Linked DNA regions of Homo sapiens. The protein of the gene in region 2 interacts with the protein of the main gene of each other region in a pairwise test. Each region holds a gene or a part of one and is shown on either strand. Other genes may lie near its edges.

Region 1 (3,965 bases), on a different chromosome or scaffold from region 2:
ACCTACTCCTGGGAGGTGATCAGCGTGCCCTGGGAACCCAATCAGCCCCTGCTCAAGACTACCACGCCATCCCGTGCAGCCCAGGGGACCACACAGACCCTCAGGGACCAAGCACCCCACACACCCCGATGTTAGCCCAGCCACTGTGGCACCTCACCTCACCTTGTCCCCAGCCAACACTGCACCCCGCACCCCGCACCCCATGCAGTTTCCCACAGCAGAGGCGAGGCCGGCTGGAACACTGAATGAAATTTATTGAAGAGAGATATGTACTGAAACCGTTGAAGAGAAGGGAATCACAACACAGAAGCTGCAAATGGCCACCACAGGACACAGGTCGGGACCCCCCTCCTCCTGGGGGAACACCCACCCCAGGTCTAGGAAACTCAGTAACAAGTAACAACAGGGGTGGAACGCCAAAGCACAAAGTTCACTGGGGAAACTCAGACAGCCCCACTCCATCCCGGGTCCTGTTCTTTCTCCCACAGTCATGGTCACCATCGCTGTCACGGGATGAGTGTCCACTGTGCCCTGGTGCCTTCTTTCCGCCATCTCCCGGGACTGCGCTGGGGTCCTCTGGGGAGGAGCTGCTCAGAGAAGAACACACACGGCTCCACAAAAACAAGCAGCCCCTGGCCTAGATCTACGCAGGGAAAGCAGAGGTGGTGCTCACGATACGGGAGAGCAGTGAGCACAACCTGGGCTCCCAGGAAGCTCACAGCACGTGCCCCTGGCACTGGAGGGGCGCCTCCCCCCACCCCATTTGGTATTAAATGTGGTCATCTGGGTCACCGGGAAGGTGGTGGTGGGCAGGGCCCCTTGGGGGGAAGTGGGGGGCCCCGATCCCGATGTGGGGTGAGGGACCGGCCCTGGCCCCGCCTCCGCCTGTCTCCAGGGCCCTGCTGCCTGAGAGGAGGAGAGGAGGCCCCGGGGCCCTCGGAGCCTATTTGCCCGGGGAGGACTCGCGCTGGGCTGCCTCCCCAGCCCCAACCTAGTTATCACATTCCTCCAGGACGGGCTTGAGCCCCTCCTGGAGGAGCTCCTCAGCCTCCTGGCCTCCTGCCTGGAGGAGGCCCTCTGGCTCCCGACCAGGACCTCCTGGGACCGCCTCTACTTTAGTGCTGGCTCTGGCAACAGCCTGGGCACCAGCCCGGGCACCGGCCCCTTCCTGTGTCTGGGCTCTCACGCTCCTGGCTAGACTGGCCTCCCATGCCTCAGACTCCCGAACGAGCCCCAGCATCTCCAAGAAACTTGGAGACCTCCCGGCCATTCTCAGCTTCCTCAGTGCTTCATCCAGAGGCTCAGTAAGGTGGGCCCTGGTGAGCATCTGCCTCAGGCGCACGCGGTCGGCGGATGCTCTGGCCAGGGCCTCCTTCTCCATGGCCTTCTGCAGCAGCACTTCCAGCCGCAACACGAAAGCTGAGAGACGCTCGCCTGACTGCTGCTGAGCGGTCAGACACTTCACCCGGATGGTCGCCTGGGACTCGTTGTCTCCAAACACCTGGGCCAGGGCCGCCAGACAGTCCTGCGCCGTCCTGGCGGGGTTCTCCGCCAGGAGCGCGTGCACGAGCTGCAGGGCGGTCCCACGCAAGCCTTCCAGCAGCCTCCTCCTCCTCTCCCTTTCCGAGACCCCCTGCCACACATGCAGCATTTCGGTGGTGTGGTCTAGCCAGACCTCAAAGGACTCCTCCCCTGGGGCTGGCTGGTCCCTCCCGGAAAACACGCCCAGGCTCTGGCACCTCACGGCCTCCACCCAGGGCTGGACCGCCTGACCGATGGATCGCAGCCAGCACACCCTGCGCAGCCCCACACCCAGGGCGCCGGCCACGCTCTCCACCATCTGCCCCTCTTGCTCCGGGAAGTGGAACACGCGACCGAGACCGAGAAACTCCTCGCCTGAGCAACGGGGCACAAAGACCACGTTCCACGGGCCCCCAGTGCCGGGGATTTCCCTGGGGACCAAAGCATAGTTGACTTCCCGGTCGAGCTCGACCAGGGCCGCGGTGGCATTATCCTCCTCTCGAAACGCTTTGCCTAGCACTGTAAAGTGTCCCATAGGCCTCAGGGCAGCCTCGAGGGACTCTTGGAATTCGGCATCATCACAGTCCTCCGGGATGCCCAGGATGAGCAGGCCCCTGCGAGCGTTGACCCCCATCCACCGGCACCAGTCCTGCAGCATGGTCACCGCCATGCCCGCGATTCTGGCCAGTGCCGGGCTGACACGAGGGGCAGGATAGGGTTCCCAGCGCGGACCAGGGTGGCACGGGGCGGCGGGGGTGTGGGGGGATGAACTGGGGTCGGAGCCCAGGTCTCCACAGCCTGTGAATGCGAGCGGGCGAGAGCGAGGTTAATGCCCACCCCTCCCCACGCCCACGTCCACGTCCACGTCCACTCCCACCCCCAGCCGCCCTCCTCCCCTGGCCGCGCCTCTGCAGCCAGGCCCCGCCCCTGTCCCGCCCCGCCCCCCCGGGGGGGTGGTCCCTGCGGGTCTTGGCCTCATCCCCGCGCCGCCCCCGGACCCCGGACCCCGGACCCCGGACCCCGGACCGCTGCCCCGCAGGCTGCTTCAGTTCTGTTAGGGCGGACAGGCGAGGGGCGGCGGAGTCTCCCGGGACCCAGCGTCCCCCTCCCCGGGTGGGTCTGATACCTTTTCCCGGGGCAGGGTCCCTCCTGGTCCGGGTCCCCACAGGGCGCGTCGGGGGCTGCGCGCCGCTGCGGCGGCGGCGGGGTCGGGCGCCCCTGGCTCCCCGCGCGGGCGTTCCCTCTGACTGTGCCTCTCCCTCGCTCGCTCGGCGTTTGGGCCGGTGCGCAGGCGCCTGCTCGCAGCCGCTCTCTGCAGTGCGGTCACGCGGCCGGGGTGCGGCGGCGGTGCAGCGCGGACCCCTCCGCGTCGCCGGCCCGGGAGAGCGCAGGGCCGTTGCCGCGGGCGGGTCACGTGGCCTGGCTCTCGCCGCCTTCCCGAGCGCCCCAGGACCCCGGGTGACGTCACCTGCTCCTATCCCCTAGCCCCACCCCCACTCCCCTCGCGCCGCGGGTCCCGGGAACACAGGCGCCAGCCCACCCCCACCCCCACCGGGGTGTCCAAAGGTCTGTGGGCCGCAGGTCCCAGCGCCTTTGGCTCTCACCACAGCGGTTCCTGGTCCAGGCCTCTGCCCCTCCCGCACGTGCCCCGGAGGCAGGCGCCAGCGGGGCGACGGGTGTGCACCCCGGCGTGCCCACCAGAGGGCCAGGGAGTGGTCTGAGGTGCGTCCGGCAGCTCTGCGTTCTGGCCAGGGTCAGGGAGCCGGGTTCTGGGGCCTGTGCACCTGCTCTTGTCCTCCCCCTCCCCGTCCAGGACTGGTCCTCTGGCTGGCAAGGCCAGGCGAGGCCAGGGGCACCTGGTGCGGGTGCCATTCCGTGGAGGAGATGCCCCAGGCGCTCACGCAGCTCACGCACACCATCCTACGGAGGGTCTGCCATCTCCCCGCTGCCCATCCGGCTTCAGGGACCCGCAGCCCTCCGGCCGAAGCACTTTGCTGCCCTGGTGCCAGGAGCCAGCACCTAGGAGGGTGACCCAGCACCCAAGTATGCCCGGGCCTCGTCCGTTTTGCAGCCGCAAGTCCCGAGTCTGGGTCTCTGCCTGAGTGTGTGCCTGGAAAGGTAGTCCGCGCGGAGTGGGCTACTCAATTTGTCCCCTGCCCCCTGTGCCCTCACCAGCCTGATGGGCTCTGGGACATTGCTCTCTTGGCCCTGAGGGCAGCATGGGTGTCGTACCTCCCTGGAGACCTCCGTCTGTCAGGGCCTGAGTCAGCCTTCCATAGGTCCTTCCCCAGTCCTCTGTTGCCGGGGCTAGACACTGCGCCAGGGCAGAGCAGCCTCCGCTCAAAACAGAGATTCTGCGCCCGTGGATCTGACCACCCTGCACCTGACCCATCATGGGAGGCTGGGGCCATGTGAACAGCATCTCCACCAGGCAGGTGGCAAAC
Region 2 (3,500 bases):
CTTTGTTAAAGTGAATAGGAAACTAGCAACTGGAAAAATAGTCATAAAATAGCATTACAAGGGCTGAACAAATTGCCTTTCCTCTCTTTACTGTTCTTTGTTTTGACAAATCTATGTCCATTGTTCTGGCTGTGGGCAGAATTTCCATATTCCTCCTTTTGGCAAACTTACTTGGTCCCCTTCCACTTTATAAATGTTAACCAGAGTCCTTTCTGCAGTAGAGATTGTGAGCGTTAATACCATTTGTACATTCTAAATGAATTACTCTTTTCCATTGAAATTAAGTTGGAAAACGAATAAATGCAAATGAACCTTCTGTATTTTATTATCCCATATTGAAGCTACATTTTCAGACATGTTGAACTAGGTGGTTTATGCTGATTTTTGTTTGTAAACCTATTTCAAGTCAAACAAGTTTAATAATAACAACAGTACCTTGAATGAATATGTAAGAGCACTTTATAAGTTGTATTGTGATGCAGTAGTAACTGGCCCTTACAGAGAGCTGGATTTGAAATTCACCTCTGCCACTAGCCAGATGTGTGACCACTTTAGGGAAATTTGAATTTGATTTTTTTCCCCTAAAGTTTTGATCATTTGAGTCTATGAAACAAACTGCTAATAGATTAACAAGGGGGGAAAAGCTTACAAATGTATTAATGAGCATATGGGCATGGGAGTCATACAAAATATGAAAACTGAGAGAAAGGGCCAGATGCTTGATGCTTTTATACCATCTTGAGGTTACAGCAGAGTAGGGGCTTGGAACATGGTTATGGGAGGGAGAAAGAAAGAAGGGGCTGGGGCAAAGATGGTCTAGTTATGCAGATGAAACTTCATAGATAGCAGCTCCTAGAAAGAATAGGCATGAGCCTGTGTTAAGTTGCTCTGTCAGACCTTCGTAGGTGTCAGACTTTCAGTTAATAATTTCCTAGGTACAGATAAGGGGGTGCCTCCAAGAAAGCCTGGTTGTTTATTTCACCAGTGTAGATTTTCTCTACAGATGCAAGTCTCCTCCACAAAAGGCAGCTTTTCAGGGTTATTCCTGTGGGAATATATCAAAGAAGTACATTTTGGGGTGAAATATTTTCAGTTTCCTTTAGTCCCCCATTTAAAGCTTAATTTTTAAAACATTAAACATTTCCTTTATTTTTATTATTTATTTATTTATTTTTAGCGGTGAGATCTCACTCTGCCACCCAGGCTGCAGTGTAGTGGTGCAATCATGGCTCACTGCAGCCTCCACCTCCTGGGCTCAGCAATCCTCCTGCCTCAGCCTCTCACGTAGCTGGGACTATAAGTGCCTGCCACCATGCCTGGCTATTTTTCACTTATTTGTTTATTTTGAGATGGAGTCTCACTCTGTCACCTAGGCTGGAGGGCAGTGGCGTGATCTCAGCTCGCTGCAACCTCTGCCTCCCAGGTTCAAGTGACTGTCCCGCCTCAGCCACTCTAGTAGCTGGGATTACAGACATGCACCACCACACCTGGCTAGTTTTTGTATTTTTTGTAGAGGCAGGGTTTCGCCATTTTGCCCAGGCTGGTCTTGAACCCCTGAGCTCAGGTGATTTGCCTGCCTCGGCCTCCCAAAGTGCTGGAATTACAGGAGTGAGCCACTGCACCCAGCCAAGAAAGTGACAATTCTTTACATACCGCAAGGTCAGGATTTTGTAAGGGAACCATATACACAGGGTACCAGGCCAATCTTTTTCTAAGTCTGTTGGCTTTTTAATGTCAATTTCAGTCCCTCAAAACAGTTTGATCATGTATCTAAGTATGACATTCCAGTTAAAGCCTTGCTAAAATAACCACTGTCTCCAATTATGTCCTGTTCAGACTGTTACTGAACTTATGCATGTAACTATATTGCCATGAAATAGGAATACTCAAAACCCAGTTTGTGAATCCAAAGAGAAAAAGGTAAATTATTTTGCTCACAAAAGTATACTTGGCCAGGTGCAGTGGCTCATGCCTGTAATCCCAGGACTTTGGAAGGCCGATGCAGGAGGATGGCTTGAGACCAGCAGTTTGTGACTAGCCTGGGCAACATAGTGAGACCCCATCTCTACTACACAAAAGTCTTGTTCAAAAGAGAAAACCATATTTTACTTTTGAATCAGTATATCAATAATAAATTTAAATAAAACCTAATAAACAAGTCCATCCAATTTCAGTCAGCTTTGACCACACAAGATTTACATATCTTTTATAACCTCTTACGATTTTTCTTCTATTTCCAACTTTCTATATTCATTTAGTTTTATCTATATCTTTTTTTATTCTTTCAATTTGAAACAAGCTTCAAATAACTTCTAAACTAGACACAATTCGTTTTCCATTAACAAAAAAATCACACTTCATGCCATTCTTTTTTTTTTTTTTTTCTTTTTTTTTTTAAGATGGAGTCTCACTGTGTCACCCAGGCTGGCGTGCAGTGGCATGATCTTGGCTCATTGCAACCTCTGCCTCCCAGGTTCTCCTGCCTCAGCCTCCTGAGTAGCTGGGATTACAGGCGTGCACCACCACACCCGGCCTCATGCCATTCTTACAACCTTTCTCTCCAAGAACATATCTTGCTTTTTTGGTATATTCTGCCTGAAGAATTGTTTGTCTTATTTCTAGTAGTTTTATTTGTTTGTTTTTAGAGATATGATCTAAGAACAAACTACTCAGTGATGTGATCATAGCCTACTGCAACCTCAAATTCCTGGGCTCAAGCAATCCTCCTACCTCAACCTCCTGAGTAGCTGGAACAACAGGCATGCCCCACCACACCCTGCTAAAATTTTATTTTTTTATAGAGACAGGGTCTGCCTATGTTGCCCAGGCCAATCTTGAATTCCTAGGCTCAAGTGATCCTCCTGCCTTAGCCTCTCAAAGAGCTGGGATTACAGGCATGAGCACTCCCAAACTGCTGGGATTACAGGCATGAGCCACCACACCCAGCCAACTAACAATTTAAAACTAGCTTTATTGCTGGGCACAGTGGCTCACACCTATAATCCCAGCACTTTGGGAGGCCGAGGCAGGCGGATCACTTGAGCCCAGGAGTTGGAAACCAGCCTGGTCAACATGGCGAAACCTTGTCCCTACTGAAAATACTAAAAAATTAGCCGGGCATGGTGGCGCACATGGAGGCTGAGGTGGGAGAATCGCTTGAACCTAGGAGGCAGAGGTTGCAGTGAGCTGAGATCGCACCACTGCACTCCAGCCTGGGTGACAGATTGAGAGTCGTTCTCAAAAAAACAAAAACAAACAAAAAAACCTAGCTTGATTTACCAAAGATTACTAAAGTCATATGAACTTCGAAAAACATTTGGGATAGTTAATTTGTGAGTACTCATTTATTTAGAAGTCAGTTTGGTACTACAGACTATACAAACTCATGTGTAAACATATATATACATGTAGACACAACATATATCACATGCACACACCAGTATCCAAAAGCCAGAGAGATTAGGAAGTTTAATGCAGGAGAGCAGAACTTTAGACATGAG

The links. The genes of interacting proteins can lie anywhere in the genome.
Region 1: the proteins of RNF125 (region 2) and PNMA6A interact in a two-hybrid assay, tested with the Homo sapiens proteins (one large-scale study listed by BioGRID).

The regions. Positions count from the first base shown.
Region 1 is NC_000023.11:153,071,289-153,075,253, reverse strand, and holds PNMA6A (paraneoplastic antigen-like protein 6A), read right to left. Parts: upstream 2,801-3,965; 5' UTR 2,648-2,800; intron 2,320-2,647; 5' UTR 2,192-2,319; coding exon 992-2,191; 3' UTR 235-991; downstream 1-234.
Region 2 is NC_000018.10:32,021,825-32,025,324, forward strand, and holds part of RNF125 (E3 ubiquitin-protein ligase RNF125), read left to right. Parts: intron 1-3,500. UniProt on the Homo sapiens protein: E3 ubiquitin-protein ligase that mediates ubiquitination and subsequent proteasomal degradation of target proteins, such as RIGI, MAVS/IPS1, IFIH1/MDA5, JAK1 and p53/TP53.